Homo sapiens: one gene and its partners. The protein of the gene in region 1 purifies or fractionates together with the protein of each later gene. This does not show direct contact. Each region holds a gene or a part of one and is shown on either strand. Other genes may lie near its edges.

Region 1 (4,234 bases):
AAGCCGACTGGACCCAACATGGTGCTGGATTCGACCCGTTTCACCTAGGACCTCTCATTATGTGCTCATTAACATACTAAGTCACACACCCACTGTGACAGCTCTGGGGAACACCCGTATTTAGTATAAAAATGTGTGGCACCGCAGTACCAAGAAATGTTTACCTTTTTCCAAGAATCTTCATGAATATTCCACCCCTTGGTTAAATAAATATTTAAAGGTAGCTCCAAACCCCGCTGGGCGTGATGCTCTGTGGTATGCCTGCACTTTTCTTTCTTCAGTACGTACTTATTCCCGTCGCAATGAATCTCCACACTTTGTTCTGCTCATCCATGAATTCCTTCTCACGACAGTGTCAAGAGCCTGGACACCAGTCAGGGTCGAGGCCTCACCAGCATCTTGGGGCCTCACTGGGCACAGACGCGTGAGCGCCCGGCCTGCAGACCTGACTCTGGCAGCCGCTCAGGCCCTCAGAGGGAGAGATGGAAGCTGGCAGGACGCAGTTGCTACCGCGCGGACCCGGCCCCCGACCAGCCTTGGCCCCTCGCGCGCCGGGACAGGGCCACAAATGACTGCACCTGGGCTTCGCTGGCCCAGGCACCACGCGACTCTAAGCGCGCCCAAAGCGACCCTCTGCGCAAACTACCCCCGGGGACGACGTCACCCGTGAGGTCCCGCGGCGCCTCCTCCTAAAGCTCGGCTGGGAAACCGTCCGCTTCCCCAAGACTTGGGGGCTTGTGGCCGAGTTGTTTTAGTTTTCCTGTAGGATTCACGGGTGGCTGAGGCAAACACGCTTGAAGGCCTAAGACTTTTAAGTCTCTTCCGCACCCTCTCTTCTGTCTCTTCCACCTGGAGGATGACCGCTTTTTTGGGGGTTTTGTTGTTGTTTTGAGACGGAGTCTCGCTCTGTCGCCCAGGCTGGATTGTAGTGGCGCCATCTCCGCTCACTGCAACCTCCGCCTCCCGGGTTCAAGCGATTCTCCTGCCTCAGCCTCCCGAGTAGCTGGGATTACAGGCGCCCACCACCATGCCCGGCTGATTTTTGTATTTTTAGTAGAGACGGGGTTTCGCCACGTTGGTCAGGCTAATATCAAACTCCTGACCTCAGGTGATCCGCCCTCCTCGGCCTCCCAAAGTGCTGGGATGACAGGCGTGAGCCACCGCGCCCGGCCGGGATGACTGTTATTAACAATTCCCGGCGTGGTTTCTAGCACCAGCCCACCTACCACACCCCACCTCGCTTGAGGCTGAATGGGTAACAGGATGAACCCGCCCCTGGGCTGGTTTTCTCTGAACCCTAACTCCTGCCGTTACGCCCCACCAGCTCTAGGCCAGGAACTCTATGTGCCCCGGCCACGCTAGAGCCCGTACCTAGACCCGTAGGTCGGGAGGCCTGCGCCCGGCACTGCGCAGACGCAGCGTGCTGTGCCCAGAACTCTTCTGTTCCCAGGAGAATCAGGGGAGTCGGCGCCGGAAGGGGCGGGTCCGAGCTGAGATTTCCAGAGCCATGGGAGCCGGAAGTCCAAGGAACTGTACCTCCATCATGACGACTCCGGTTACGTAAAAACATTCAAACAGAAAATGCTGGCCAGGCTCATGCCTGTAATCCCAGCACTTTGGGAGGCCGAGGCGGGAGGATCGCTTGTGCCCAGGAGTTGGAGACCAGCCTGGGCAACATAGTGAGACCCTCCCCCCACCCATCTCTACAAAAAATTTTAAAATTAGCTAGCTGAGATCATGCCACTGCACTCCAGCCTGGACAACAAAGTGAGACTATGTCTCAAAAAAATTTAAAAATTACCCACGCCTGTAGTGTCAGATAGTCAGGAGGCAGAGGTTGGAGGATGACTTGAGCCTTGGGGATCGAGGGTGTAGTGAGGTATGATCGCACCACTGCACTCCAGCCTGGGCAACAGAGCAAGACCCTGTCTCAAAAACTATATAAAAGAAAAAAGGGCTGGGTCGGTGGCTCACGCCTGTCATGCCAGCACTTTGGGAGGCCGAGGCGGGTAGATCACCTGAGGTCAGGAGTTTGAGACCAGCCTGACCAACAAGGTGAAACCCTGTCTCTACTAAAAATACAAAAATTAGCTGGCCATGATGGTGGGTGCCTGTAATCCCAGCTACTGGGGAGGCTGAGGCAGGAGAATCACTTGAACCCCAGAGGTGGAGGTTGCAGTGAGCCGAGATCACACCACTGCACTCCAGCCTGGGCGACAGAGCGAGAGACTCCGTCTCAAAAAAAAAAAAAAAAAAAAAAAAACAGAAAAAAGGCCGGGCACGGTGGCTCACTCCTGTAATTCCAGAACTTTGGGAGGCCAAGGCGGGCGGATCAGGAGTTCGAGACTGCCTGGGCAACATAGCGAAACCCCGTCTCTACTAAAAATACAAAAAATTAGCCAGGCGTGGTGGCGGGCTCCTGTAATCCCAGCTACTCAGGAGGCTTAGGCAGGAGAATCACTTGAACCCAGGAAGCAGAGGCTGCAGTGAGCCGAGATCACGCCATTAAACTCCAGCCTCGGTGACAGAGTGAGACTCCATCCCCGCTCCGCTCCCTCACCTCCCGCCAAAAAAAAAAAAGAAAATGCACTGCAATAGAAAAATAAAAGTACTACACTTTGGTCAAACAGGGTAACTACTAGAACGTAAAATGATCTTTTTGAAACTATCCACATTTGTTACACGTGTTGAAAATGTAGGATATATATGTTATATATATACTTATATATGTTATATATACTTATATATGTTATATACTTATATATGTTATGTACTTATATATTATATATACTTATATATGTTATATCTACTTATGTTATATACTTATATATGTTATATATACTTATATATGTTATACATACTTATATGTTATATATACTTATGTTATATACTTATATATGTTATATATACTTATACATGTTATACATACTTATATGTTATATATACTTATATATGTTATATATACTTATATATGCTATATATACTTATATATGCTATGTATACTTATATATGTTATATATATACTTATATGTATGTTATATATACTTATATATGTTATATATGCTTATATGTATGTTATATATGCTTATATGTTATATATACTTACATATGTTATATATACTTACATATGTTATATGTACTTACATATGTTATATATATACATATATGTTATATATATATAATTATATATATATAAAACAAAAAGCACGGTTACTACAAAGAAAACAGGTAAACATTAAGTGGAGTAAAAGTATATCCTGTTATATAAGGGACTTGAACATGTCTGGGCATGGTGGCTCAAGCCTGTAATCCCAGCACTTTGGGAGGCTGAGGCGGGTGGATTACTGGAGGTCAGGAGTTCGAGACCTGGGCAACATAGCAAGACCTTGTCTCTATTAAAAAATAGATAGATAGATAGATAGATAGATACATAGAACATCAAAAGAGGGAGAGAGAAAGCAGACAGATGTGGCAAAATATACACAATTGGTAAATTTGGGTGAAGGGAATATAAGTTATTTCTACTAATCTTGCAATTCTTATGTATATTTGCAATGATTTCTAAATAAAAGTTTTTAATTACCAATTGAAATAAAGTAAAATAAGTCACTATCTAGCCTTTTCTAGACAAATATTTTAAACTCTTACACAGAGATAAGTTAATCAAGAAACGTATTTCCTGGAAAAACCCGTGATATGGGTGGAGCCACCTGGGAATAAAAGGTCGGAACATCATAATCACTGTCAGACTCAACTTCCATCATTCTCCTCCAGGCGCTATGGAGTCTAATCCAGGCACTTTGGAAGGCTGAGGCTGGAGGATCGATTGAGGCCAGGAGTTTGGGACCACCCTGGGCAACATAGCAAGATCTCATTTCTGAAAAAAGAATTATCATCCACTCACCCAGAACAGCTCTCCAAACTGTAAGTTTCATTCAAGGTTTGCTTGTTTGGGTGATGGGATGTGTGTGTGTGTGTGTGTGTGTGTGTGTGTGTGTGTGTGTGTATGTGTGTGTGAGTGTTGGAAGGAGGGTCTGTCTAAACTTAATGCCCTAAAGATATTGTCAGATATTGTGATGAGGGGAATTTCATCTTCTACCCTTTATGAGGTTGAATTGTAAATTCGAAAATCCTGATTCTGGGTTTTTATTTTGAGGGGATAGTTTTCTGTTTTCTGTGGCATTGGATATTGGCATTTTCAGAAAAGAGCATGCATCCAAAATGAAAATGATGA
Region 2 (3,500 bases), on another chromosome or scaffold:
TGCCCACGGTGACCCTCGCTGACCTCAGGCCACACGCCTCAGGCCACGCTCCCACCCCCAAGCATTGGGTTTGGCTTTGCTCATGTCCATCCTGGTAGACAGCTCTCTACTGACTCATTAACAGACCAAGTCTCTGTCATCATCAGTAGTCCCCGATTACATCTTTCTGTCTGTGGACCTGACACTGGACTGGGATTATGAGAAAACCCAATTCAGTCTCCTCCCTGCCTCCAAATCTGGAAGGTGGCTCAGCTTACTCTTGGAGTCTTTTACTTCACTGTTAGGAATAATGATGCCTAACCTTGTTTTTGAAACAGGTGGAGCTAACAGGACATAGTATCTTTGACTTCACTCATCCCTGCGACCATGAGGAGATTCGTGAGAACCTGAGTCTCAAAAATGGTATCCTTAATTGTGTTTACTTCCTTCTTGCCCCCACTGGGTGGGAATCTGCCTCCCCTTTGTCTACGGGTATAAGGGAGATAGCTCATGGCCCTTGTGATGCAGGAAAAATGGATGTCCTTAAAAAATTTAAGTATGTAGCCTGTGAGATGAGATTGGGGCATTGAGAGGATCCAGTACTCAGAAATATCTCCTGCTGGCCCTGCATGGTGCCTGGTGTCCCACTACTAGGGGACACCTTTGGGTTAGGACACTGTCTCTAGGAGGTTTCATCACCCAAGAGTCAAGCATCTCTGCCAAATGACACCACCCAAACCAATGAGGAACTAGTCTGTGCCAAAGTGCTCATAGTAACTACTGTAGTTATCTATTGCTGTCTAACAAACCACCTATAACATAGGGCTTTGATGATTATCTCCCAGGGTTCTGTGGGTTCAGTGGGTGGGTCTTGTACTCCATGTGATGTCAGCTGGGCTGCAGTCATCTGGGGGCCAGACTAGGCTGGGGTGATCAGGATAGCTCACACACGTCTGGGACCTTGTGGCAGGTGGCTGGAACCCTGGACTCAGTTGGCATGCTGGGACAACAGGACTGTTCTCTCACTCTATGGAGACTCAGAGACTCTCCCTCTCCATATGGTGTCTCTAGGGTAGCCAGACATCTTACGTGGCAGTTTAGGGCTCCCAGAAGCACTAAAGTGGAAGCTGCCAGGCCTTCTGAAGGCTTTGTCCCCAGATTGGCAGAGCATCACTTCTGCCCCATCTTGTTGGTTAGAGCATGTTACAGGCCAGCCCTGGCTCATTGTGGGAGGAAACTACACGAAGCCATGAGTGTCAAAAGGCATGGCTTGTTGGAGCTACTTTTGGAGAAGAGCTACCACAGGAAATGGTACCCTGATGAGACGCAGGTCAAGTAGGTTTTGATGGAGAAGAGGTTTAAAAAGATGTAGCATTCAGGACCTTACCCATGGGGATACCCAGCAGGTGCCAGTAGATGAGAGGACCCACACAGGCAGAAAGCACGTTGCAATGGTTGCAATGGCAGTGGAGCTTCCTGTCTTGTAACTGTGGCCATTCAACAAAGGCATGAATAGGGACATTGTTAAGAGGACTGAAGCTTTGGTCAGAATTGGGGCTTAATGACTGTCAAGGTCCCTTCCAAACCTGAGATTCTGTCACTGGTCTGGGGAGATTCTGTGCATGTCTAGATGTCCTCTTTAACAACCTCACCTGTCACTGCCATGGGGCTTGTGCTTGTCCAGCCTGAATAACAGAGGCAGTGAGGCTAAGCCTACAAGGTTTGGCTCTTATTACCACACACGCTGCAAAAACAGACACTTCATTGGCTCACCTCCACCCTATTACAGACTGAGTCTGCAGTCCACATTTGGGCCTGCAAAGTACAGAATCACAACCACCTCCTCTTCTACCACTGCCACAGCTCCCTCACCCAGCTCCTCTGCTCTCTCTTCTGCAGGCCTTAGACCACCTGGGTCCTAGGGTACACTGGCAGAGAGCACCCTGTAGGCTGCTCAGTGTCTTGTCTGGTTCTGTGGGGAAAGGGCTACCAGACTTTCTAAAGCTCTCTAAAAAGAGGATTCATGTTCTGCATGGGTAGGTGCTTGAAGCCTGAGAAAGCCTGAGAAAACCAAAGACTGATTTCTTCTGTACTCCAGAAACCCTTTGGCCTTTGGGTTCTTAGTGTCAGTTCAGCCACTGACCATAGTCTGAGTTTGAGTCTGTGACCAGAAGCAAGTACCCTACTTCTCTGTTCCTCAGAGTCTTTCTTTTCAAATTGATGGTATTGGACTAGGCAAAGGCGACAACCTTTCAGTTCTCAAGTGCCATGATTCACAGCCAAGTGACCTCTAATTATCTGAGTAGAACTTTAGATCTCTTGATCTGCATATTGAGGACTTGGGATCAGTCAAACTCAATGCAACAGCAAATCTTCACTGAAGGTGCCAGCCTATGGGTGGACTCGTGATCTAGACCTAAAGGGTTAGTGTGAGTTCCTAGAGGAAAAGAAAGCCATGAGGCAGATTGTGGAAGGCTTTGAAGGCCAGGTGGAGGGCCTTGAACTTTATTCCATAGACAATGGGGAGCTATTGAAGGTTTCTGTGCAGGGGTGGAGTGATCTGTGTGGAGCAGTGTTTAGAAAGAATGAACAAGGCCAGGCACGGTGGCTCACGCCTGTAATCCCAGGACTTTCGGAGGCCAAGGTGGGTGGATCACGAGATCAAGAGATCGAGACCATCCTGGCCAACATGGTGAAACCCCATCTCTACCAAAAATACAAAAATTAGCTGGGCGTGGTGGCGCGTGCCTGTAGTCCCAGCTACTTGGGAGGCTGAGGCAGGAGAATCACTTGAACCCAGGAGGCAGAGGTTGCAGTGAGCCAAGATCACGCCACTGCACTCCAGCCTGGCGACAGAGCAAGATTCTGTCTCAAAAAAAAAAAAAAAAAAAAAAAAGATCAAATGTCAGCATGGGGAGAATCCAGAGGTTAGCAAGTTAAGAGGCCTCAATAATACCCCAGCAACAGCCACAAATGAATCCCTCCAGCCCCCTTATACCCAACAACTGGTCTGGTCCTGGTGGTGGGGCCAGATCCCAAGATACAGGTATATCTCATTGTATGCTAACCCCACCTCTGAAAATTAAAATGGCAAGAATCATAATTTGGTATGGGAGAAATGGTTTTATAATCGTGATGAAGGAATGTTCTCTCTTTTTTAAAAAAATTCACTATTCAGTCTGTTACTGAGTGGGGTCCCCTAAGGATGTTGAAGTTTTGTTCAAGGGTGCCACAGTTCCTTTGACACATAACTCTTCAGGAATATGTCAGTCAAGATCCTCTGGAAGTTTAAGTGCAGGGGCTGGTGACTGTTCCTGGAGGAAGGAGTGTGACTATTCGAAACAAGGCTCTAGATTGTTCTATGATGCTGGGTAGGGGGCAGGATTATATCTTTGAAAGTAGGTACCAGAGATGGTGGTGTAGGCAGGATTTAGACACAGACAAGTGGGATTCAGCTGGCACTCTTCATTACTTTGTTTTACAAAAAGTGGAAAATGGTTCTGAATCGGGAGGCTGTTTGG
Region 3 (3,500 bases), on another chromosome or scaffold:
AAATTTCCGCTTGTCTTGTAAGTGTCATACTTTTTTTGTATGTTTGGATCAGTCTGTTTGGATCAGGATTCAAATAAGGTTCATACATTGTGACTGACCAATATGTCTGTTAAATCTCTTTTAACTCATAACTTCCTCTTTCATAACTTTTTTATTCCTTGAATAAAATTTACTCAATTTACTTCAATTTACTCATTGAAGAAACAGGTTATTTTTCCTGTAGAGTTTCCCAAAGAGAGTTTGTAGAGTGCATTCTAGAAGTGTCGTTTAGCATGTTCTGCTTTCATCCATATTTCTTTTTGTTGTTGTTGTTGTTTTGTTTTTTTGAGAGGGAGTTTTGCTCTTGTTGCCCAGTCTGGAGTGCAATCGCCCGATCTTGGCTCACTGCAACCTGCGCCTCCCAGGTTTAAGTGATTCTCCTGCCTTAGCCTCCAGAGTAGCTGGGATTACAGGCTTGTGCCACCATGCCCGGCTAAATGTTTGTATTTTTAGTAGAAATGGGGTTTCACCATGTTGGTCCGGCTGGTCTCGAACTCCTGACCTCAGGTGATCCACCGCCTCAGCCTCCCAAAGTGCTGGGATTACAGGAGTGAGCCACTGTGCCTGGCCTCATCCATATTTCATTAGCAGTTAGATCTAGAAGGTAACTGTTGGGTGTTTTTTTTTGTTTGTTTTTTGTTTTTGTTTTTGTTTTTTGAGACTGAGTCTCACTCTGTCATCCAGGCTGGAGTGCAATGGCATGATCTTGGCTCACTGCAACCTCTGCCTCCTGAATTCAAGCGATTCCCCTGCCTCAGCCTCCTGAGTAGCTGGGATTACAACTGTGTGCCACAATGCCTGGCTAATTTTTGTATTTTTAGTAGCGACGGAGTTTCGCCATGTTTGCCAGGCTGCTCTTGAACCCCATATCTCAGGTGATCTGCTCACCTCGGCCTCCCACGGTGCTGGGATTACAGGCATGAGCCACTGCACCTGGCCTAATTGCTAGTTTTTATACTATTGTAAGTAACATCTTTCTCAAAATTTCATTTTTTGTTTATTACCATATATCAAAATACCTTTGATTTTTGTATCCACAATCTTGGTAACTCTTTTAATTGATTTGGTGAGTTTATTTACATAATTTTTTTTTTCTTTTTTCATTTTCTTTCTTTTTTGAGATGGAGCCTCGCTCTGTTGTCCAGGCTGGAGTGCAGTGGCGTGATCTCGACTCACTGCAACCTCGGCATTCCGGGTTCAAGGGATTCTCCTGCCTCAGCCTCCCAAGTAGCTGGGACTATATACAAATACATACATACATGTGGTATGTGTAGGCACACGCCACCACACTGGCTAAGCTAATCTTTCTATTTTTAGTAGATATGGTGTTTCACCATGTTGGCCAGGCTGGTCTCCTGTCTCGGCCTCCTGAAGTGCTGGGATTACAGGCGTGAACCACCATGCCCAGCATTGTAGATTCTTTTGTATTTCCTATATATGCAATTACATCACCTATGAATAATGATGGCTTTGTTTCTCCCTTTCCAGTGTGTAACCCTGTTTTTCCTTCCCTTACTGTGCTTGCTATGACACCCAGTGCATGTTGAACAGAAATAGAGATAGCAGATGTTTTGCCTTCTTTCTGATTTCTCTCTCCAACTTTTTACCTCACATAATGATTGTTGCTATAGTTTTCTAAAATCTACCTTTTATGGAATCAAGTGTCCATCTAGACTTAGATTGCTAAGAGGTGTTTTTTTAATGATGAACGACTATAGGATTTTAAGAGCTTCATTTTCTTCATCTATTGAGACAATCATGTATTTCTCCTCTATTCTGTTAATGTGACAGATTATATTGATTGATTTTTCTGAAAAATCATTCAGATTATAAACTACTTATACTTTGCTAGTATAAAACCACGAAGTAACAGGGTGGTCAGAGCATAAAAGAGCTAGCCATGGTAAGACTCGGGGAGAAATTTTTTTTTTTTGAGACAGAGTCTTGTGCTGTTGCCCAGGCTGGAGTGCAGTGGCGCGATCTCCGCTCACTGCAAGCTCCACCTCCCGGGTTCGCGCCATTCTCCTGCCTCAGCCTCCCAAGTAGCTGGGATTACAGGCGCCCGCCACCACGCCCGGCTAATTTTTTGTATTTTTGGTAGAGGCAGGGTTTCACTGTGTTAGCCAGGATGGTCTTGATCTCCCGACCTTGTGATCCGCCCACCTTGGCCTCCCAAGGTGCTGGGATTACAGGCGTGAGCCACCGCGCCCAGGTGAAATCATTCTATATTTACACAAACTCTCATAAATAAGAATAAAGGAAATGGTCCCCAATTCATTTTGTATTAATATAAAACCTGTAAGGATGGTACAGAAAAAGTGAATAAATTGATTCAAATTATTATTGAAACAAAATATTTAACAAAGGGAATTTAGCAATATATAAAAGGTAATACATCTTACTATTGCTAACTATATTAAACTGTGACTTCCTTTTTTTTTCGGTTAGGCCCATTTTTTGTCTCAGTGTACTTATTTTTATACATAATTATTTATCTGTTCACTTCTTTTGATTCACTCCTAAGATTTTTTCAGAATATTTTCTTTTTCTTTCTTTCTTTTTTTTTTTTTGATGGAGTTTTGCTCTTGTTGCCCAGGCTGGAGTGCAATGGTGCAATCTCGGCTCACTGCAACCTCCACCTCCCAGGTTCAAGTGATTCTCCTTCCTCAGCCTCCCGAGTAGCTGGGATTACAGGCATGTGCCACCATGCCAGGATAACTTTTTTTTGTATTTTTGGTAGAGATGGGTTTCTCCATGTTGGTCAGGCTGGTCTCGAACTCCCGACCTCAGGTGACCCACCCTCCTCGGCCTCCCAAAGTACTGAGATTACAGGCGTGAGCCCCCATGCCCAGCCCCAGGATATTTTCATGAGGGAAACCACTTGAATATTGTTTAGATATGGATGCTTTGGGTAAAGTGCTTTTTTGTTTTTCTTTTTGAAATTAAGAAGAAACATGGCGGCTATCCTTCTCTCACATCGAAAAGGAAATTTTGAACAATCATGGAAAATCTAAAACGTGCTGTGAAAACAAAGAAGAGAAATGTTGCAGGTAACAGCCTTATTTTGTTAAATGACAGATTATCTATGGTATGCTTAATTATTTGTTGACTCCACACCTCAGACCTGAAGAGCTGAGCTGGGTTGGGTCTGGGGGGCAGGGCAGGATTGGGTTGAGCTGGGGAGAGTGTGAGTATGAAACCAGAGAAGCTAGATCCAAAGGGCCAAGGAAAGGGTGTTGTTAGAAGGCAAGGCCGGGGAATAGTAGTTCTGAACCCTGGATCAGATGAATGTGTTTTTGTATAGATGTATCAGTAGGACAGAGTGAGAGGGTATGAGCACTAGCCATGACAATTCGATGGGTCTTAGTATTCTGCTTGTTTAAAAGTAATGGATATTAATGCCATATAATTGGAGGAGGCCAAAAGGTCGCTCTTATTAGATACTGGGCTTGCTTTGGGAT
Region 4 (3,500 bases), on another chromosome or scaffold:
GAGGTGGAGGCTGCAGTGAGCCAAGATTGTGCCACTGTACCCCAGACTGGGTGACATGGCCCACAGACCAAGACCCTGTCTCAAAAAAAAAAAAAAAGCTTTTTTCCAGAGCCATCTTGCTGTCCTCATATATTTATTCTCCTAGATGAATTGTTGCTTAAGCAACAATGAAGTTTAAATTGTTCTTCAGATAGAACCCCTAGGTGCCAGGCAGTTTGTTAAGCACTGACACCGCAGTCCTGTGACTTTCATGACGACCTGTGACCTGTGGGAGGTAGAACACCTCACCCACCCGTGGGAGCCCCTGGAGTGACTGACAGGAACCCCTGCCTCACCCAGCTCCCCGCGCCGCGGCTCTCCCCAGCCCTGGATGCAGGCGCCCAGGAGACATGTATTGCTTTTGTTGAGCTGCTCACTTAGGAGGGTGACTCAGAGTTCAAGCTGGAAAGCACTGGCTTGTGACTCATGAGCCAGTGCAAGATCAAACGGCTGGGGCATCGAGGTGAGAGTTTTCCTTCTCAGAAGCCTCATCTCCGCAGCCGGAAGCAGAGCCCTTGGCTGACTGGAAAAACCAGAGAGGCCCCGGGAGTGGGTGGATGGCCAGCCCAGCCCCACCTCTCAGCCTCAACCTCCACCAGCCCACACCGAGCTTGTTTGTCTGTGTCCTGTCGAAACTAGGACTCCTGGATTGTAACTTTTCTTACATTTCCCTGTCCCCTGGGTCCTCCACTTAGGGTGTAATCACACAGACAGGCTCTTAACTGTTTCATATCACTCACTTGGGAAAGTGTCTCAAGCTGTTCTACAAATCCATGCAAAGGCCGTTTAAAAATAGCAGCGAAGGCCCTGGACTCGGTCTCGTCCAGCACAGCCCCTTGGCTCTCTCTCTGGGCTCTGGCCGCCTGGCCCCCGGGGACCCACACGAGGTCATGGCGTGCTTCGGGCAGGGGGGCGGGGATCCCATAGACACCTCAGCTCCTTAAGAGTTCTCCGCCTGGGCCAGGACGAGCATGGGGGTCCCCACTGATGCCCGAGACGGTGCCCCTGTGTGTGTGAGCCCTCGACCCACATAACAGAGAGGTGTCCTGATGCCCTCTGTCCTCTCCAGGTGGATCTAGGATCCGGCTTCCAACATGTGGCAGCTCTGGGCCTCCCTCTGCTGCCTGCTGGTGTTGGCCAATGCCCGGAGCAGGCCCTCTTTCCATCCCCTGTCGGATGAGCTGGTCAACTATGTCAACAAACGGAATACCACGTGGCAGGTAGGCTGTGGGGCTGCGTCCTATGTATGTCCCCTCCCAGGTCGGTCTGTGCACACTGACTCCAGGAATGGGAAGCCAGCCCTCACTGTGGCCCACAGAACATTGTCCTGGACTGTTGAAAAATGGCCCTGACCCTGAGTCATGTCGGCTCTGGACCACGCCTCCCTCCTTTGTCCCATACCCCACGTGTGTGCATGAGTGTGTGTGCATGTGTATGAATATATGGTTGTGTGCACGTGGAGGTGTGTGGGGGAGTAAGTGAGCTTCGGAAGTGTTCAAAACCAGCTAGCCCCTGTGACGCCCGCCGTGGCACAGTGGCAGTTTATCAGTCCCGCCCCTGATTCCCTTTGTCTCTGCCCAGCCCTGACCCTCGGACTGAGAACCAAGAATGAGGAGTGAGCCATGTTGAGGGCTGGAGAGGGTCTCTGATTGTCAGCAAATGGGAGCAGATCAGGGGAGACACCCACTCTGCCCGTGTGTCACTCTGGGCTGTTCCCCAGTGCCCCCCAACCCTTGGGCCCTTGAATTGGGTAGGGTCTCTGGTTTTCCCTGGGTTGGGCTTCGTGTGTGGGCAGCGTGCCCATCCACCGCCATCCCGGGAGACCCTTCAGTCAGTGGGTGACTCTCTTCCAGGCCGGGCACAACTTCTACAACGTGGACATGAGCTACTTGAAGAGGCTATGTGGTACCTTCCTGGGTGGGCCCAAGCCACCCCAGAGGTGAGTGCCTGCTCCTCTGCACCGCTGTAATGTGAGTGGCAGGCGTTGGTTTGGGGCAGTGGGAAGTGGGAGAGTGAAGGCCTCTCTGGCGTCCGCAGGGCTCATGCTGCCCAGGGCTGCCGACACCGCTTGAGGTACAGTACTTGTTTCTTTTCATTTTTATATTACTTTCTCTTTTTATTTTATTTTTTCCTTCTCAAGTTATTAGTAGAGAAGATGCTGGTGCTTTTTTTTGGTTTTTGAGAGAGTCTCACTCTGTCACCCAGGCTGGAGTGCAGTGGCACGATCTTGGCTCACTGCAAACTCTGTCTCCCGGGTTCAAGCGATTCTCATGCCACAGCCTCCTGAGTAGCTGGGGCCACAGGCTTGCACCACCGTGCACGGCTAATATTTGTATTTTTAGTAGAGACTGGGTTTCGCCATACTGGCCAGGCTCGTCTCGAACTCTTGGCCTCAGCAAGTCATCTGCCCAACTCGGCATCCCAGAGTGCTGGGATTACCGGCATGAGCCACCCCCAGTGTTTTCTATTGTGCTTCTCCAAGGTGTCTCAGCCGCAGATGTGACAGACAAGGTCTGGGTCCCCACTATGTGGGCAGACTCAATCTTGAGTAATTTAAGGGAAATCTAAGAAAAGCCAGATGAGGCCAAGTATGGTGGCTCACGCCTGTAATCCCAGCACTTTGGGATGCCAAGGCAAGCGGATCACCTGAGGTCAGGAGTTCGAGACCAGTCTGACCAACATGATGAAACCCCGTCTCTACTAAAAATAAAAAACTTTGCCAGGCGTGGTGGCGGGCGCCTGTAATCCCAGCTACTCGGGAGGCTGAGGCTAGAGAATCGCATGAACCCGGGAGGCAGAGGTTGCGGTGAGCTGAGATGATGCCACTTCCCACGTGAGGATGGGGTAGTTAAGTTGCACGACACTGCCTTCTGCACAATGGGGATGATATGAGAAATGATGAGAGGATCCTGGGCAGAGGTTGAGGCAGGAGAGCAGGGCAAGAAACACTATCTGGACTGAATAAACTTATTTAAAAATGAGTTTATAATTTGTGGATAAATTCATCTTAAAAAATCCATTACATAAGCCTAGAAAGAAGCGTACAATATCGCAAGTCAGGCCAGGTGTGGTGGATCATGCCTGTAATCCCAGCACTTTGGGAGGCCAAGGCAGGCAGATCATTTGAAGCCAGGAGTTTAAGACCAGCCTGGCCAACATGGTGAAACCCTGTCTTTACTAAAAATACAAAAATTAGCCGGGTGTGGTGGTGCATGCCTGTAATCCCAGCTACTCAGGAGGCTGAGGCACGAGAATCGATTGAACTCAGGAGGCAGAGGTTGCAGTGGGCAGAGATCTCGCCACTGCACTCCAGCCTGGATGACACAGTGAAATTCTGTCCACTCCCACCCTCCCGTCCCACCCAAAAAAAAAATCAAAAGGTGCATTGAGCAACAGAATTTCCTTTTGTTTTATGAAATTACCAAGGACACCTGTCTGCAGCCTTCTTCGGCATGTCTTGT
Region 5 (3,500 bases), on another chromosome or scaffold:
GTTGCGTAAGTGATGTTGTAATCATTGAAATGGCTTAGCGCACTGGGTGTAGTAGCTCACACCTGTAATCCCAGCACTTTGGGAGGCTGAGGCAGGTGGATCACTTGAGGCCAGGAGTTTGAGACCAGCCTGGGCAACATGGTGAAACCCTGTCTCTACTAAAAATACAAAAATTAGCTGGGTGTGTTGGCAGGTGCCGGTCATCTCAGCTACTTGGGAGGCTGAGGCAAGAAATCTCTTGAACCCGGGGGGCGGAGGTAGCCGTGAGCCTGGATCACGCCACTGCTCTGCAGCCTAGGCAATGGAGTGAGACTCGGGCTAAAAAAAAAAAAAAAAAAAAAGTCTTAGCTCAATGCATTACCTTTTCTATGTTTAGATACATAAATACCATTATAGTACCATTGCCTATAGTATTCATTATGGTAACATACTATACAAGTTTGTAGCCTGGGAGCAACAGTATATAGCTTAGGTGTGTAGTAGGCTATACTGTGTAGGTTTCTGTAAGTACATTCTGTAATGTTTACATGACGAAATCACCTAACAACATGTTTCTCAGAACATGCCCACATCATTAAGCTGCACATGACTGTATTTCTAGATTGCTGTTAAAATTGTTGTGAATGAATTTTTTAAATTACATTTACTAATCAGTTATCTGATGAGGACTGCTGTTGATCTAATTTTTTTGGTCTTGAGTCCAGCAGCGTTGCTAAACTGTAATTGTTTTGGGGGTTCTCTTAAATTTGCCATAAAAATTAATAAGGGCAGCTTTATCTTTTCCAATTTTCATCTTTTTCTTGCATATCTTACTGGAGTGGAATTCTGTCTTTGCATTTCATATTTTGAGACTGTTTTTAGGTACATACAAATATATATTTGTTATTCTTGGTGAATGTGTCCTTTTATGATACATTGTTCCTCGTTATGCCTATTTATGCTTTTTCCTTAATTCTAATTGGTCTTTCCTTTGTTAATATTTGCTTGATGTCTACTTTTGCTCTTTTTAACTTCAGATTCTTTTTTGGGTTATATTATTTGAGTATCTCATGAACAACCAACAGCTTACTGTTTCCTTTTTAATCCAGTAACCTTGGCCTTTTAACATGTCAGTTTAATCTTTTACAATTTGCCGTAGCTGAACACTAGATTAGCTCTGTTCTCTCGTTTTGCCTGTGGCATTTTTAGTCCCCATTTTCTAGTAATAGTCAAATTCCTGACCATCACTCCCTGCTTACCCTAAAACCTGTTTCTGGAGAGATTTTTCTCTTTTTATATTTTATTCACTATCATAACATATTTACAGCAAAGAACGTGCATCATAGCATGAACTTAACTCTGCCACCTGGATGGGAAGTCTTCTGTAGCCTTCCTAATCCCCACTTGTTGCTGGCTTTCCCCCTCTAGTTCCCTACTGAAGGAACAGATGCTAAGGAAACAGGCCGAGTTAGAATCAGCACAGTGCCGACTCCAACTGCAGGTCCTCACTGATAAGTGCACTAGGCTTCAAAGGCGTGTTCAGGTACGTTTGTCCTTTCTAATCCAAAGAACTTTTGGAATAGGAATGGAAGAGGAAGCTAATGTTAGTTATGTTCATCTCAGAAACAAATAGGATTTGCCAAGTTGTTTAGGAAATGAACATGACCAACTCCTTATTTTATTTCTGATTAGGGCATCTGTTCAAAACTTACTACACACTTTATGATGAGGTCTACTATAGTCTGAATTTTATTTTTTATTTTTTTGAGGCAGAGTCTCACTCTGTCACCTAGGCTGGAGTGCAGTGATGTGATCTCGGCTCACTGCAACCTCTGTCTCCTGGGTTCAAGCGGTTCTCCTGCCTCAGCCTCAGCATCTCGAGGTGCTGGGATTACAGGAGCCCACCACCATGCCCAGCTAATTTTTGTACTTTTAGTAGAGACAGGGTTTCACCATGATGGCCAGGCTAGTCTTGAACACCTGACTTCAGGTGATCCGCCTGCCTTGGCTTCCCAAAGTGCTGGGATTACAGGCGTGAGCACTGCACCTGGCCTTACAATCTGAATTTTAGAAAAAATTAAATAGCCAACCAAGAATTCCAAACTTGTTTAAGTAATTTTACCTTCCTAAATCTACTAGTAAAATGAGGGCTTTACCAGGAGTTTGAAGGTTACAATGAGCTGTGATCGCACTACTGCACTCCAGCCTGGATGCCATGGATGACAGAGTGAGACCCTGTCTCCTTTTAAGTTGTTTTTTTTTTTTTTTTTTTTTTTAAAGGACTTTAAACGAAACCACCATTAAGGACTTTCAACCCTCATATTATGATTCTGTGCTCTCCTTATTTCACTTGCTTGTTGAAATACTGTAAAAACTCAGCAGTTCTGGCCGGGCGCGGTGGCTCACGCCTGTAATCCCAGCACTTTGGGCGGCCGAGGCGGGTGGATCACCTGAGGTCAGGAGTTCAAGACCAGCCCGGCCAACGTGGTAAAACCCCATCTCTACTAAAAATATTTAAAAATTAGCCGGGCATGGTAGTGGGTGCATGTAATCCCAGCTACTCAGGAGGCTGAGGCAGAAGTGCTTGAACCCAGGAGATGGAGGTTGCAGTGAGCCAACATGGTCCCACTGCACTCCAGCCTGGGTGACAGAGTGAGACTCCGTCTTAAAAAAAAAAACAAAAACTCTGCAGTTCTCTAGGATTCATGTTAACACTTTCATATAATGGATAAAAAATCTTCCTGTAAAAGATCAAGGAATTGTATTTGAGGGGAATATCAAATTAAAAAGCTTTGTATTTATAAAATCTTTTTCATTTTAGGACTTGCAAAAACTTACGTCACATCAAAGTCAGAATTTACAGCAACCCAGGGGCTCCCAAGCATGGGTCCTGAGCTGCTCACCCTCCAGCCAGGGCCAGCACAAGCACAAGTACCACTTCCAAAAGACCTTCACAGTATCTCAGGCAGGAAACTGCCGGATCATGGCATACTGTGATGCTCTGAGCTGCCTGGTGATATCACAGCCTTCTCCTCAGGCCTCTTTTCTTCCAGGTAAAGAGTCTAGAACCTCAGCTTTCATGTTCTTTATTAGACTCCATATATTTATTTCCTTGCCTTTTGGAAAATTCAAGACTCAAAGGTTACCAAATCACCTTTCCCTATTAGTTCCTTGTTAATGCAAGTACCCCAGGGTGCTGCAAAGATGTCTTTACTGTCTGTTGACTTCATTCTGTAAATTTATTAACCAAGAGGGTAGAAATACTGATAACCATGATAAAGCAGATGGTGAGGTCCTTGGAAGTGTAGGTTACTGATATAGTCCAAGAAGGACTTATATGTCCTCAACTTACAGATGCATTTTAGACTGGAAATGTTTGACAAAACACAGCCCTAAGGGTTAATTCAAGGTGAAACAAAATTTAATATTTACTTACAATAGTGTTCAAGTTAACAATTTCCAAATAAGAGAATTTAGGGAGTAAATTGATTATTTTATTAATACTAGGTTAATTTTCTCTC
Region 6 (3,500 bases), on another chromosome or scaffold:
AAAAAAATACAAAAATTAGCCAGGCGTGGTGGCACATGCCTATAATCCCATCTACTCAGGAGGCTGAGGCAAGAGAATCACTTGAACCCAGGAGGCAGAGGTTGCAGTGAACCGAGATCATGCCACTGCACTCCAGCCTGGGTAACAGAGCAAGACTCTGTTTCAGAAAAAAAAAAAAAAAGAATTTAGTATGTTCTGATGATGAAAGATGTTGAAAGTATTTAATTTTTTTTTTTTTTTTTTGAGACGGAGTCTCGCTCTGTCGCCCAGGCCGGACTGCGGACTGCAGTGGCGCAATCTCGGCTCACTGCAAGCTCCGCTTCCCGGGTTCACGCCATTCTCCTGCCTCAGCCTCCCGAGTAGCTGGGACTACAGGCGCCCGCCACCGCGCCCGGCTAATTTTTTGTATTTTTAGTAGAGACGGGGTTTCACCTTGTTAGCCAGGATGGTCTCGATCTCCTGACCTCATGATCCACCCACCTCGGCCTCCCAAAGTGCTGGGATTACAGGCGTGAGCCACCGCGCCCGGCCTTTAATTTTTTATTAGTTGTACTTTTTTTTTTTGAGACAGACTCTTGCTTTGTAGCCCAGGCTGGAGTGCAGTGGCATCATCTCAGTTCACTGTAACCTTTGCCTCCCGGGTTCAAGCGATTCTCCCGCCTCAGCCTCCCAAGTAGCTGGGATTACAAGCGCCTGCCACCACACCCAGCTAATTTTGTATTTTTAGTAGAGACTGGGTTTCACCATGTTGGCCAGGCTGGTCTCAAACTCCTGACCTCAGGTGATCCACCTGCCTAGGCCTCCCAGAGCGTTGGGATTACAGGTGTAAGCCACCACGTCCGGCCATTAGGTGTACTTCTGAGGAAATAGTAGAACATAGAAGGAAAAAAATTTCTGAGGAAGCATAATTATTGCAATAACTGAAAAAATCAGTTTTCCTTGCTTGTGTAGATGGCTACAGGAAGGGAAATAAACATTACTGGGCATCTGGATAAATTAGCATGAGTTAAAGCATTTCTTCTGATACAATGTCTAAAATTGACTTTTTTTTTTTGAGACAGAGTCTCTCTCTGTCACCCCGGCTGGAGTGGCAGTGGCACAATCTCTGGCTCACTGCAACCTCCACCTCCCAGGTTCAAGCAATTCTCCTGCCTCAGCCTCTTGAGTAGCTGGAACTACAAGTATGTACCACCACACCCAGCTAATTTTTGTATTTTTAGTAGAGACGGGGTTTCACCATGTTGGCCAGGCTGGAAAATTTACTAGTTCTTATCAAGATAAATCCTTGTGTAGATACTTTCATCAGATTCCTTTCACCGTATCCATTTTGTCTAACACTTATTTTTAAAAATATAGCTGCTTAACACAGTTGAAGAAACTACAAAAGATGTATCTGGTCTCCATTCCAAACTGGATCGTAAGAAGGCAGTTGACCAACACAATGCAGAAGCTCAGGATATTTTTGGCAAAAACCTGAATAGTCTGTTTAATAATATGGAAGAATTAATTAAGGATGGCAGCTCAAAGCAAAAGGCCATGCTAGAAGTACATAAGACCTTATTTGGTAAGTTCAGGCTGTTCTGTTCTAGTCTTGATGTGTTAAGTGTAATGTTGATTTCAAAACTGATAATTTTGTGAAACATAGATGACGGTGTCACCAATACTCTCTACCATGCACAAACTATTTGTTCAGGGTGAAGATTAATGCTTTTATTGTCTTTGAATTAAAACAAATCTTTTTTCCCTCCCCACCCTCCCTTCTGTTTTCTATAAAATGTTACATTTATTAAGTAACTAAGTATATAAACGTTAGAAGTAGAAGTCCTCTTTTTCCCTGACTCCGGCTCCTGACCCTGGGTCATTGACCATAGGTGTTATTGTTAAATTTCTTGGGCCTTTTTCTGGAAATTTTTTGTGCATAAACATTCTGCAACTTTTTTTGGGGGGGGCATATATATCTTGATGGTTTGCTATATTGTCAGAATATGTTTGTGTCTCATTGTTTTTAACTATTATCTCCCTTTAGAAAAAAGTATGTTTATTTAGTGTGAAATACTATCCTCATTATGGAAAATTTGGACATTCAGAAATATAAAAATTTAAAAAATCATCTAGACTCTAGTCTCACTAAGCCAAGCACTATACTTTTTGGTATTGATTTCCAGTTTTTTTTTTCTTCTGTAAACTTACCATAATTCTGTATATTATTTTTAGTTAGAGATTAATTGTAGAATATTCTAATTCTTTGTGTACTATGAATTATAGTTATGGGTCTGATACACTTACAAATATGTTAAGGGCTTACAGAGCACTATAGAAAATTGTAATGTATATTTAAATATTTCCTTGCTTTGTAGTGAGCCAGTTCTTTTAAGCTCGTTATTACAAATTCTACAACAAGGGTATACTTTTGTCAACTTCTTTGAAATGGTTTGAACGGTATTTAATATATTTATGTCAAAGTTTACATCTTTCTGTTTTTGTTTGTTATAGGTAATCTGCTGTCTTCCAGTGTCTCTGCATTAGATACCATTACTACAGTAGCACTTGGATCTCTCACATCTATTCCAGAAAATGTGTCTACTCATGTTTCTCAGATTTTTAATATGATACTAAAAGAACAATCATTAGCAGCAGAAAGTAAAACTGTACTACAGGAATTGATTGTTAGTACATCCTTTAAAATATTTTTGAAGGGTTGCATTTGATAAGTATTTGATAAAATATTTTGAAGGGTTACATTTGATAAGTCTTTATAAACAATGTTAACTGCTATTCTTTCTTCCTGAGCTTTACTAGACACAGTCATAGACACGTCACTGTGAGAGACTACATATATATATATTTTGTTTTGTTTTGTTTTGTTTGTTTGTTTTGAGATGGAGTCTCGCTCTGTCGTCCAGGAGTGCAGTGGCGTGATCTCGGCTCACTGCAAGCTCTACCTCCCGGGTTCATGCCATTCTCCTGCCTTAGCCTCCCGAGTAGCTGGGACTACAGGCGCCCACCACCACACCCGGCTAATTTTTTGTATTTTTAGTAGAGATGGGGTTTCACCGTGTTAGCCAGGATGGTCTTGATCTCCTGACCTTGTGATCCACCCGCCTCGGCCTCCCAAAGTGCTGGGATTACAGGCATGAGCCACCGTGCCCAGCCAGCCTCTCCTTTTCTTTATTTGTATTTATTTATTTTTTTCAGCCTCTCCTTTTCTCGGCTCACTGCAACCTCTGCCTCCTGGGTTCAAGCAGTTCTCTTGCCTCAGCCTCCCGGGTAGATGGAATTATAGGCATGTGCCACCACGCCTGGCTAATTTTCGTATTTTTTTTTAGTAGAGATGGTGTTTTACCATGTTGGTCAGGCTGGTCTCAAGCTCCTAACCTCAAGCAATCCACCCACCTCGGCCTCCCAAAGCGCTGGGATTACAGGCGTGAGCCACCGTGCCCGGCCGAGAGTACGTTTATATTTTTAAAGACAGATCTCTCCACTGTTTATTCTCTCCCAGA
Region 7 (3,500 bases), on another chromosome or scaffold:
CTCACTCTTTCGCCCAGGTTGGAGTGCAATGGCATGATCTTAGCTCACTGCAACCTCCGCCTCCCAGGTTCAAGCAGTTCTCCTGCCTCAGCCTCCTGAGTAGCTGGGATTACAAGTGTCCGCCAGTACACTTGGCTAATTTTTGTATTTTTAGTAGAGATGGGGTTTACCATGTTGGCCAGGCTGGTCTTGAACTCCCGACCTCAGGTGATCCGCCAGCCTCGGCTTCCCAAAGTGCTGGGATTACAGGCAGGAGCCACTGTGTCCAGCCTATTTACTTAGTTATTTAAAAGTAAAACATTTTTTAAAAAGGTAAGCAGTTTTCCAACACTGTCACTCCACAAGTGTTTTAAGTGACAGATCATTGCAGTGTGTCTCCCGATACCCAGGCCAGTCTGCTGGGGCACCATGCTGAGAACTGCTGTGAACCTGGGGCTTCAACCCCACTAGAAGGGGACCTTCTTTTTCTTCGGAGTCTGAAATGAAGGGTGCCAGGCAGCTCTTGGGGAAGAGTTTCTGCTTTGTCACCTTACTCCTGTCCCCTAATGCTGTCCCAGCCTTCAGGAATGGAGCTTTTGATCTGAGTCTGCAACCTGATTCCTGAAAGCTATTGATCAAGCACCCTGCCAGCGTCTCCGTCTCTGGTGCCTCTCCCTCACAGGCTCTCTATCTCCCACGTCAAGATGCAAAAGCCTAAAACCTCTGCCCAGTGTCTTGGTCAAAAAATCGAGCTGGAGCTAGGCACTCCCCCTGTCATAGCCCATAGCGGACACGGGGCTTAACAGGCCAAGGGCACTCCTGCCTGACAAACCCAGGATCCTGTCTTCTCAAAGCTTGTCTTAGAATGCAGCTGGTCGTCTGGAAATTGAGAGACAGTACAGAATAAACCCGTCTTTCCCCCACCTCCGCCTGCAGAGAAAAGAAATGCTGGGAACGCAGTACGGAGCGCCATGAAGTCCGAGGAACAGAAGATCAAAGACGCCAGGAAAGGTCCCCTGGTACCTTTTCCAAACCAAAAATCTGAAGCAGCAGAACCTCCAAAAACTCCACCCTCATCTTGTGATTCCACCAATGCAGCCATCGCCAAGCAAGCCCTGAAAAAGCCCATCAAGGGCAAACAGGCCCCCCGAAAAAAGTAAGTGCCCCATTCAGTCCTCTTCCTAACGTGGAGCAGTTTGGTTCCTCTGATGCCAGGGAAGCCTGCTCAGGTGCCCATGGGGGTTCAGTGGCCACCTCTCAGCCTCTCTCATGTCAAAGACTCAGATGCCCCGAGTCATCAGCAGGGATGCCACTGTTTGTCAGTTTCTGGATCTGGCATGGGTCCAGAGTTCAAGAGCCTCTCCTTCCTCCCCTCCTTACCCACCCCAGCATAAGCAGCCTTTGTTTTTTAAATTTATTTTTTTTGTTTGTCTTTTTTGGTGATTGGTGTTTTGTGTTTTTTTTTTTTTTTTTTTGAGACAGAGTCTCTTGTTGCCCAGGCTGGAGTGCAATAGTGCGATCTCGGCTCACTGCAAACACCACCTCCTGGGTTCAAGCGATTCCCCTGCCTCAGCCTCCTGAGTAACTGGGATTACAGGTGCATGCCACCATGTCCCGCTTATTTTTGTATTTTTATTAGAGACAGGGTTTCACCATGTTGGTCAGGCTGGTCTCAAACTCCTGACCTCGTGATCTGCCTGCCTCAGCCTCCCAAAGTCCTGGGATTACAGGCGTGAACCACCATGCCCGACTGTTGTGTTTTTTGAGACAGGGTCTTATTCTGTCATCCAGGCTGGAGTGCAGTAGCTCACTGCAGCCTCAACCTCTCAGGACCAAGTGATCCTCCTACTTCAGCCTCCCGAGTAGTTGGGACCATAGGTGTGCACCACCATGCCTGGCTAATTTCTTTCCTTTTTTTAGAGACGGGGTTTTGCTGTGTTGCCTGAGTTGGTCTTGAACTCCTGGGCTCAAGTGATCCTCCCGCCTCAGCCTCCCAGAGTGTTGGCATTACAGGCATGAGGCACTGCGCCCAGCCAGCAGCCCGTCTTTGAAACTCCTCTGAGGCCCTCATGGGCAGGTGACTGAGTGACCTGCAGGCTCCAGTGGACAAAGGTGTTTAAGTGACATCATCTCCAAGGAGCTGTGTGCCTCCTCGGTGTGTGCCTTCTAAGGAGCTGTGTGCCTCCAGGTTTTCAGTCCTGATATTTATTTTCTCCTCTTCCCCTCTTACCCAGAGCTCAAGGAAAAACGCAACAGAATCGCAAACTTACGGATTTCTACCCTGTCCGAAGGAGCTCCAGGAAGAGCAAAGCCGAGCTGCAGGTAGTCACGTGCTTTAAATTCCAGTTTGTGGAGGGGCAGGGTGGCCCACCAAGCAGTGCTTGGCGTGTGCGTATGTGTGTGTCCTCAGCCTTGTTTTCGTCATCTTGGAGCAAGTCTCTTGGCCCCTCTGGACTTGGTTTTCTCCTGGATCTATCGGGGATCCTCACAAAGCTTGTCCTGCCTTTCTGCTGGGGTCACTGCAGGGCTTGGTTAAGACACTTGTGTGAAGGAACCTTGTGACTTGTAGCATGTGGCAGGGAAAGCCAGGTGTGACTCTGAAGGTGGATTTTCCAGGACTTGTTGGCAGAGCCATTGGGAGCCTGGGACTGTGGGAAAGGCTGCCTGTTCTTTCAGAGGCTTTTCTTGTCTGTTTTCTGGAAGTTTCCATGTTGTGGCCCAGGGTGTTAAACAGCAGTGGCTTGGGGCCACTTGCTGGTTGCGTAGCCTTGGGCCAGTCACTTACCCTGTCCATGCCTTGGCTCTCCAGTCTGTAAAATGGTACAATAATGTAGTACCTGCTAGAGCTGTGGTGAGCATTCAATAAATGTGGTCATGCAAGAGGAACCCTTAGAACCATGCTTGGCACTCAGTAAGTGCCAGCTAACTGTTACTATCGCCACCTCTGCTTCCTCAGTGTTGTCACTCCCGTCTGCTCTTTCCCACGCTGCTGCCATACTAGGAGCCTGCAGACCAGTGAGCAGCACCGGCTGGAAGGCCAGCTGGCCTATGCGGGCCTCCGCTGCCATGTTTGCAGAGGGTTGAGCTATGCGGCAGGCAGTCAATATTTGCTGCAGTGAGGTGTGGTTATTGCCTTTCTGTGAAGGAAACGCAGGGCATGGCAGGTCCCTCTGCTCTTCCCCCTCAGGGACACCTGGGGCTGCCCCTCTGCTCTCCCTCACCCCCACAGTGACCACCGGGTTGGGAGAGGTGCTCAGGATTGCATCCTACACAGAGAGGTGGGGACCCCGGCTTTGGCAGTTTCAGCATTTCAGCCCTCATGCGGACTCCTTCAGCGTTCTTGATGTTAAATGCGCAGATACACAGTGGTCTAGTATTCTTTCTCTTTTTCTTTTAATTGATGAAGCTTCATTTAAAAAAAATTTTTAAAAAGGTCCATTTTCTTCCCCACAGAGAGCAGCTTTGGTTTTATTGCCTGAAAAAGGCAATGTCTTTCAGCCAAGAATGAGCTGTTTAAAACA

The links.
Region 2: the proteins of USP29 (region 1) and EPAS1 purify together in Homo sapiens (affinity purification with western blotting, with the first as the bait; one study listed by BioGRID). This does not show direct contact.
Region 3: the proteins of USP29 (region 1) and CGAS purify together in Homo sapiens (affinity purification with western blotting; one study listed by BioGRID). This does not show direct contact.
Region 4: the proteins of USP29 (region 1) and CTSB purify together in Homo sapiens (affinity purification with mass spectrometry; one large-scale study listed by BioGRID and IntAct). This does not show direct contact.
Region 5: the proteins of USP29 (region 1) and RFWD3 purify together in Homo sapiens (affinity purification with mass spectrometry; one large-scale study listed by BioGRID and IntAct). This does not show direct contact.
Region 6: the proteins of USP29 (region 1) and KIF11 purify together in Homo sapiens (affinity purification with mass spectrometry; one study listed by BioGRID and IntAct). This does not show direct contact.
Region 7: the proteins of USP29 (region 1) and KMT5A purify together in Homo sapiens (affinity purification with western blotting; one study listed by BioGRID). This does not show direct contact.

Annotation. Positions count from the first base shown.
Region 1 is NC_000019.10:57,118,551-57,122,784, forward strand, and holds the start of USP29 (ubiquitin carboxyl-terminal hydrolase 29), read left to right. Parts: upstream 1-1,434; 5' UTR 1,435-1,679; intron 1,680-3,774; 5' UTR 3,775-3,924; intron 3,925-4,234.
Region 2 is NC_000002.12:46,356,407-46,359,906, forward strand, and holds part of EPAS1 (endothelial PAS domain-containing protein 1), read left to right. Parts: intron 1-317; coding exon 318-402; intron 403-3,500.
Region 3 is NC_000006.12:73,428,298-73,431,797, reverse strand, and holds part of CGAS (cyclic GMP-AMP synthase), read left to right. Parts: intron 1-2,986; coding exon 2,987-3,089; intron 3,090-3,500. UniProt on the Homo sapiens protein: Nucleotidyltransferase that catalyzes the formation of cyclic GMP-AMP (2',3'-cGAMP) from ATP and GTP and plays a key role in innate immunity.
Region 4 is NC_000008.11:11,851,088-11,854,587, reverse strand, and holds part of CTSB (cathepsin B isoform 1 preproprotein), read left to right. Parts: intron 1-1,108; 5' UTR 1,109-1,133; coding exon 1,134-1,259; intron 1,260-1,892; coding exon 1,893-1,978; intron 1,979-3,500. UniProt on the Homo sapiens protein: Thiol protease which is believed to participate in intracellular degradation and turnover of proteins. Cleaves matrix extracellular phosphoglycoprotein MEPE. Involved in the solubilization of cross-linked TG/thyroglobulin in the thyroid follicle lumen.
Region 5 is NC_000016.10:74,635,878-74,639,377, reverse strand, and holds part of RFWD3 (E3 ubiquitin-protein ligase RFWD3), read left to right. Parts: intron 1-1,407; coding exon 1,408-1,522; intron 1,523-2,800; coding exon 2,801-3,032; intron 3,033-3,500. UniProt on the Homo sapiens protein: E3 ubiquitin-protein ligase required for the repair of DNA interstrand cross-links (ICL) in response to DNA damage. Plays a key role in RPA-mediated DNA damage signaling and repair.
Region 6 is NC_000010.11:92,631,130-92,634,629, forward strand, and holds part of KIF11 (kinesin-like protein KIF11), read left to right. Parts: intron 1-1,356; coding exon 1,357-1,564; intron 1,565-2,493; coding exon 2,494-2,666; intron 2,667-3,500. UniProt on the Homo sapiens protein: Motor protein required for establishing a bipolar spindle and thus contributing to chromosome congression during mitosis. Required in non-mitotic cells for transport of secretory proteins from the Golgi complex to the cell surface.
Region 7 is NC_000012.12:123,394,132-123,397,631, forward strand, and holds part of KMT5A (N-lysine methyltransferase KMT5A), read left to right. Parts: intron 1-915; coding exon 916-1,135; intron 1,136-2,213; coding exon 2,214-2,301; intron 2,302-3,500. UniProt on the Homo sapiens protein: Protein-lysine N-methyltransferase that monomethylates both histones and non-histone proteins. Specifically monomethylates 'Lys-20' of histone H4 (H4K20me1).